Homo sapiens: one gene and its partner. The gene in region 1 interacts genetically with each later gene. Each region holds a gene or a part of one and is shown on either strand. Other genes may lie near its edges.

The links.
Region 2: changes in MAN1B1 (region 1) and TBL1XR1 together harm fitness more than expected from each alone (negative genetic interaction), as found in Homo sapiens cells (one large-scale study listed by BioGRID).

Annotation. Positions count from the first base shown.
Region 1 is NC_000009.12:137,103,829-137,106,998, reverse strand, and holds part of MAN1B1 (endoplasmic reticulum mannosyl-oligosaccharide 1,2-alpha-mannosidase), read right to left. Parts: coding exon of another isoform or gene 2,634-3,170; exon of another isoform or gene 2,023-2,633; intron 875-2,022; coding exon 684-874; intron 311-683; coding exon 190-310; intron 1-189. Other genes in the region: uncharacterized protein LOC124902313, read right to left, coding at 2,789-3,170. UniProt on the Homo sapiens protein: Involved in glycoprotein quality control targeting of misfolded glycoproteins for degradation.
Region 2 is NC_000003.12:177,033,415-177,037,235, forward strand, and holds part of TBL1XR1 (F-box-like/WD repeat-containing protein TBL1XR1), read right to left. Parts: intron 912-3,821; coding exon 784-911; intron 1-783. UniProt on the Homo sapiens protein: F-box-like protein involved in the recruitment of the ubiquitin/19S proteasome complex to nuclear receptor-regulated transcription units. Plays an essential role in transcription activation mediated by nuclear receptors.

The DNA of each region.
Region 1 (3,170 bases):
ACCCCAGGTGCCACACAAGGCCTTACTGCCCTGTTGCCAAGACAGGCCTGGCCAGGCAGCCACGGTCCACCCAGGGCCTCCACGTGGGCGCCATGGCCAGGATTTCGTTCTTTTTGACATCATGACTCAGGCACCTTGGAAGCCAAGGTAAAAGGGGCGGCGGCCGGAAGGCCCCGCAGACACACTCACCATCTTGGCACTGAAGCGGCCGTGGGCAAGCTCCCCCACAAAGGTGAGCTTACTGGGCTCGGAGTGCCGCAGCAGGTGCGTTCTGACACCCTCGATGGCTTCCACGTAGTCTTCCAGCAGCCTGTGGACACCAGCAGTCATCTCACTCTACCAGGACGGTGCATCGGCTCCCGTGGGGCACCAGGGACAGGCACATCCTGGGCCCACACAAGTACAGCAGGCCTGGCCCTTGCCGGACAGAAGGTGCCACCCTGCACAGCCCATGGCCCTCAGTGAAGATGCCCCCCTCACCCCCCCAGAGGCCACGGTGAGAGGTGAATGAATACGCCCTCCACATAAATGCCTGGGCCAGGCCTGGCACGGCTGCGGTTTCCTGACACACAGTGTGGCGGGGGGCAGCAGGAGCGGGGGCCGTGGGAGCTGGGGGCAGCAGGAGTGGGGGGCTGCGGGAACGGGGGAGCCGCGGGAGCTGGGGGCAGCGGGCCGGGCCTCACTGTGTCTCCTGCTTCCCGCCCTGGATCCACTGCTTCAGCAGGTACTCATAGTAGCTGTCGGCCCTGGCGCCCAGCGTGAATACGCCCAGGTGGGTGAAGAGGCCACTGTGGGTATTGATGAACATGGGCACCAGCCCATCCTTCTTCCCAGACAGGCCGTGGATGTGCTGTGTCACCTTCTCCACTGCCTCCTGCGGCAGAAAGGGGGATGGTGGGTTTACTGGCCAGGGCCGAGCTGCAGGGTGAGCTGTAGAGGGGCTCTGTGAGCTCTGCCTCCCCTCGCCCCAGCACCGACTGACTCCCAGCAGAGAGAGCTCTGTGCCCAGCCCACAGCTGTCCTTGCCCACATGGCTCCTGGTGGCCGTACCACACAGCCACACAGCCACCAGTGCAACGCACCTGAATGTCACTGCTCCCAACGGGTGGTCACCACAGAGCTGACCCATCTTCAGGATGGCTCTCATCCCTTACTCGAAGGGACAGCATCTGACAACCACAGGCACTGTCCTCACGAGAGCCCACCAGGCCTGGCCGTCAGCCATGGCTCTGGAGGGACGGCAAGTGTGCCTGCCTTCTGAGCCCAGTGTTGCTCCTGATGATATTAAACGCCTCGGCTCCACGCCCTCCTGGTGAGCTCCTACTCATCCTCCAAGTCACAGCCACCCTCAGCTCCTCAGGGCTTACGCCCAGCTGGCAGCACCAGGCGTCCTGGCCCACAGAGGGGCACAGGGTACCGGGATGTTAGGGCACGCCCAGCAAGGGCGCTCCGGGTCTCTACCCAACGCAGACACCCAAACCCATGCCCAGCACCTTCGAGGCCTGGCTGCCTATCCCTGTGTACCGGCAGCAACCAGAGGCCCTGGTGACATGGGGGTGCCCATGGGGGCCTGGGGCCATTTTCTGAGCTGCAGTGAAAACGCCTTCTAAATGTCTGCATGGGAGCCTCACGTGGATGGCGTGTGGGAGCCTCACGTGGATGGTGTGGGCTGCACTTCTCACCACAAGTGGTCACAGTTGCTCTAAAGAGGGCTGTGTCCAGCTCATGATTAAAAACAGGGACTCGAACATGAGGCCAAATACATGAGCAACAATAAACTGACCAGCTGTGCTTCATGAAAATGACAATCTGTTATCTATCAAAATACACCATTAACAAAGTAAAAAGAGGCCGGGCACAGTGGCTCACACCTGTAATCCCAGCACTTTGGGAGGCCAGTGGGTGGATCACCTGAGGTCAGTTCCAGACCATCCTGGCCAACATGGCAAAACCCCATCTCTACTAAAAATACAAAAAAATAACGGGGTGTGGTGGTGGGTGTGGTCCCAGCTACTCGGGAGGCTGAGGCAGGAGAATCGCTTGAACCCGGGAGGTGGAGGTTGCAGTGAGCCGAGATCGCGCCACAGCCTCAGGCAGGTGTGTGCACCCACACTCACAACACCCAAAACACAGCCTCAGGCAGGTGTGTGCACCCACACTCACAACACCCAAAACACAGCCTCAGGCAGGTGTGTGCACCCGCACTCACAACAAAGCAGAGCCTCAGGCAGGTGTGTGCACCCACACTCACAACGGCCAAAACACAGCCTCAGGCAGGCGTGTGCACCCGCGCTTACAGCAACCAAAACAGCACAGTCCTGGTGTCCACCAGAGGAGAGAGGATTAAACAAAAAGTGGCCTAGCCACGCAGCAGATATTCAGCCTGAAAAAGGAATCTCTGAAGCATCTTTCGCGTATGAAGCTTAAAGACGCTGAGTGAAAGGAGCCCAAATAAAAGGATAAATCAGCCGGGTGTGGTAGCTCACGCCTGTCATCCCAGCACTGTGGGAGGCCCAGGCGGGTGGATCACGAGGTCAGGAGTTTGAGACCAGTCTGGCCAACTTGGTGAAACCCTGTCTCTAATAAAAACACAAAAATTAGCTGGGCGTGGTGGCAGGCGCCTGTAATCCCAGCTACTTGGGAGGCTGAGGCAGGAGAATCACTTGAACCTGGGAGTGGAGGTTGCAGTGAGCTGAGATCACGCCACTGCACTCCAGCCTGAGTGACAGAATGAGACTCTGTCTCAACAAACGAAAACAAAAAAAGGACAAATCGTGTGTGACTGCACTCACACGAGGAACTCCACACAATGAGGTCCAGGAAGAAAAACCTGAACAGTGTTTTTCAGGGACTGGGGAGGGACATGAAGGGTCACTGTGTGATGGGAGAGCTTCAGTTTTAAGATGAAAAGGGCTCTGGAGATGGAAGTGATAGCTGCACAACAGCATGAATGTGTGTAACACCACTGACCTGTACTCCTGCAACAGCGTGAATGTAACACCACCGACCTGCATGCCTGCAACAGCATGAATGTGCAACACCACCGACCTGCACGCCTGCAACAGCATGAATGTGTAACACTACCGACCTGCATGCCTGCAACAGCATGAATGTGTGTAACACCACTGACCTGCACGCCTGCAAGTGTGAATGTGTGTAACACCACCGAC
Region 2 (3,821 bases), on another chromosome or scaffold:
AAAACGTAAATGTGCTCATTTACTGTATTCCTCTCTGTCTAAATAATCCCTCTTTCGCATGGTTTTGAACACCAAAGTGACCACATTTTTCCATTTATCTTTTTTTTTTCTAAAGATACTGAAGATTTTGCTATGCCTCAATTGCTTGGATTTTAATCAGTATTTGGTATCAGTCAATATTTGATTATTTCAATATAGAATATCATTATAACTTGAAACAATAATAAAACTCAGTGTTTAAAGATTCCCCTTAAGGAACCGACGTAAGTGCCCATCAGCTAACAAGTGGATAAAGAAAATGTGGTATACATACACCATGGAATACTACTTAGCCATAAAAAGAAATAAAATATTGTCCTTTGCAGTGACTTGGATAGAGCTGGAGGCCATCATGCTAAGTGAAATAACTCGGGAATGGAAAACCAAATATCATGTTCTGACTTGTAAGTGGGAGCTAAGCTATGAGGACACAAAGGTATAAGAATGATATAATGAACTTTGTGGACTGGAGGTGGGAGTGGGGAGAAGGCTGAGAAGAGAGGTGAGGAATAAAAGACTACACACTGGGTACACTACACTGCTTGCAAAACCAGTGCACAGAAATCAGCACTAAAGAATTTATTCTTGTAGCCAAAAACCACCTATACACCAAAAACTACTGAAATTGGAAAAAAAAAAAAAAAAGTTTCCACTTCATGAAATCTTCCCTAAACTTCTGTCATATCTATTGGAAGTCTGATTTGTAGAAGACTCATAAAAGGAAAAATGAAACAGAAGTATCACCTTGCTAACATAAGGTTGGCATTTGGATTATTAGTCCCTGGTCCTGTTGGACTCCATTTGATAGTATAAATTTCTTTATTATGTGCTTGCAAATCATGGACACAATTGTCTTGTTTCATACTCCATATCTAAACAAAAAAGAAAAATGTATACAATTATTTTTCCATACAATGAGTATATTTAAAATATTATTTTGACACTTAAAATATTATATGGACAGTCTAAAACATGAGTGATATAACCAGAATGATGATAGAATATTTACAAAGAAACTGAAATGCAATAGGATATATTTAATATTTACATCTCTGTTTAAAAAAAAAAGTTAGCTTTAAGCCCTTTAAAAATATTCACTATTACAAAGTTTGAAGACTGAATTAACTATAGTTGTTCTGAGATTAGTTAACGATCCTAAAATGTTGAAGGCACAGTTTTTACACTGTCCCTTAAGCAAAAGATCTACATAATAAACTGCTCTTAGAATTTTAGAATCAGGAAAATTTTACAATGGAGAACTGAAAATAAATAACCAACTTATAAATAATGAGGACTCACAGAGAACCGTAAAAAGTAGCATAGGAAATAAAGCTCAAATGAAAAGTAGGAAAAAAAAAAAGTAGAAAAAAGTAGTCAAAGTAGAGAATAAGCCTTTCCTGAGATGAAAATATGCCTGTGTGTATAGATTTCAAGTGACTATTATTTTTGAGCAAAAATTCATAGAAATCAACACGAAGAGTATTTCTGGGAAAAAAAAAATCACTCAATAAAGACATGGTAGGTCCTGCAGTTATCTCCTTAACACATACACATACAACATGCCAAACCCAAGGAGGGCCAACCAAGAAAAAAATCAGCTCAACTTTACATTTCCGTGACATAACCATTAAAAGATAATGAAGCATCAGAGTGTTTTTGGTGCCCTATGTATTTACAACCCCAAGTAAAATAAATCTGAACGACATGTTTTCAGAACTGATTTCATTAGACCTTTCTAATTCATAGAATTTGATACTGTTGGCCACTCTCAACTCTTACCTCCCTTGAAATAAGTTTCCTCTACATACTTTCTTTTTCCACTTTCTCAGTCACCTTCTCAGTTTCCTTTGGAAAGCTCATCCCTCTTGATTTGGTGATTGTTAGAGTTTCTAAGACTCACTTTTTTAGGTCCCCTCTTTTCTTACTCTGTACTACCTACACAGTTTTGTCCCTGCCCCAATTTTTTTTTTTTTTTTTTGGAGATGAAGTCTCACTCTCTTGCCCAGGCTGGAGTGCAGCACCACAATCTTGGCTCACTGCAACTCCGTCCCCCGGGTTCACGCAATTCTCCTGCCTCAGCCTCCAGAGTAGCTGGGATTATAGGCACCTGCCGCCACGCTCGGCTAAATTTGGTATATTTAGCAGAGATGGGGTTTCACCATGTTGACCAGCCTGGTCTTGAACTCCTGACCTCAAGTGAACTGCCCACGTCGGCCTCCCAAAGTGCTTTAATTATAGGCATGAGCTGTGGCAACATGGGGGCACTAGCTGTGGGTGTCTGCCTGCAGACCCTGACCCAGCAATGGATGAATAAAGTACACTAACACACAGATATCCTGTTTCGCCAGTCCAGCTGAGGGTGTCCGAGCCATTTACAGACTCCCTGGAGAGTTCTGTAAACAGTTGCGACCATGGCCCTATCCGCTAGTGAGACTCAAATTTATTCAGTAAGATTAATTCACAAAGGCTTGAGTCAACACCATTAGAGGGTAACTGACATTGTGGACTTCCCAAGTAAAAAGCACTTAAGCACCCATGGCACATCAAAGGTTAGTCTTAATATTATATGAGTAAACAAGCTAGCTAGGTAAACTACCCTGCCTTCCTTTATTACTAGTTTAATTTGTTTAACTAAAGGTAAAGGAACCAGGCCGCGTTCAGCCAGATCTATTACTGAAGTTACTTCTCAGTTTTCCAAGAAGATATGTGTCTATTTCTATAACTATCTCTAATATTTTTCCCACCAGCCTGATTGAACCCCAACAGTGAACCACCAGGCCTGGCCATGCCCAAGGATTTTAAAGACCACCTATCTGCTGAGAATTCCCAGTTTTTAATCTTGAGCTTACAGTTCTCTAAGCATCAGTCCCACCTATCTCCTCCATTCGCATGACTCAGCGTCACCTTCTCATTCCATCTGGCATTCCCTCTTCTCAGAAAACGGCCCATTACACATTATCCATCCATCCTAGTTTTTGCTTTAAAATCCTTTGTGACATTTAAACATTCTTAGGATGAAGAAAAGCTCTCTAACAATTTCTAGTTTTAACCTCTCTCCAGCTTCAACTCAATATGTGGCACAAGGCCCTCTGGACACTGCCCTTCTGTCATTTCCTCATATGTGTCACACACAGTTCCAGAAGAAGTTTTTTTCATGTTATAAGCATTAATACGTGTGCACATAAGGAAAAGCCAAAGATGAAAGCATTAAGAAGAGTATTAATACTAGCAATTTTGTAAGGGAGCCCAGACTTAAGAAGAACTGTCTAAAAACATAGCAGATACTTAAAGGAGAAAACCTCACAAGTTTCGCAAAGTTAAATTTAATCTGTTCATAGTAGCAGGAAAATCAGTTTTCCCTCATGATTTTCATATCTGTAACGGTCATCACATCTGCAGTCCTTGGTACTGCAAAGTCAAGGATAAAACTGTTTTCAGTAGAGGGTTAGCTGTTGCAGGAGAGGGCTCAAAGCTTCATTTATTTTGGAAATAAGTATTACGTTGTTCTTTATCTCCAAATGCTTTTTTCCCCAAATGAGGAATCTGGTGTGCTTAGGTGCGAGACAGCAGTTTTGCTTTTAGTCATACAACAAGAAAAACAGAGATCCATGTTGAGATGTGGATGTTGGTATGTCAACTAGGCTCGCTCACTGAGAGATTCTCTGCTATGTATCAGTTTCCCAGCAATGGTGATACATAGTCATACCACAGCAAAATCAAATTAATACAACGCAAAGAATTCCAATCAAATCCATGAATGCTACAAAGATTTTGAGTACTTA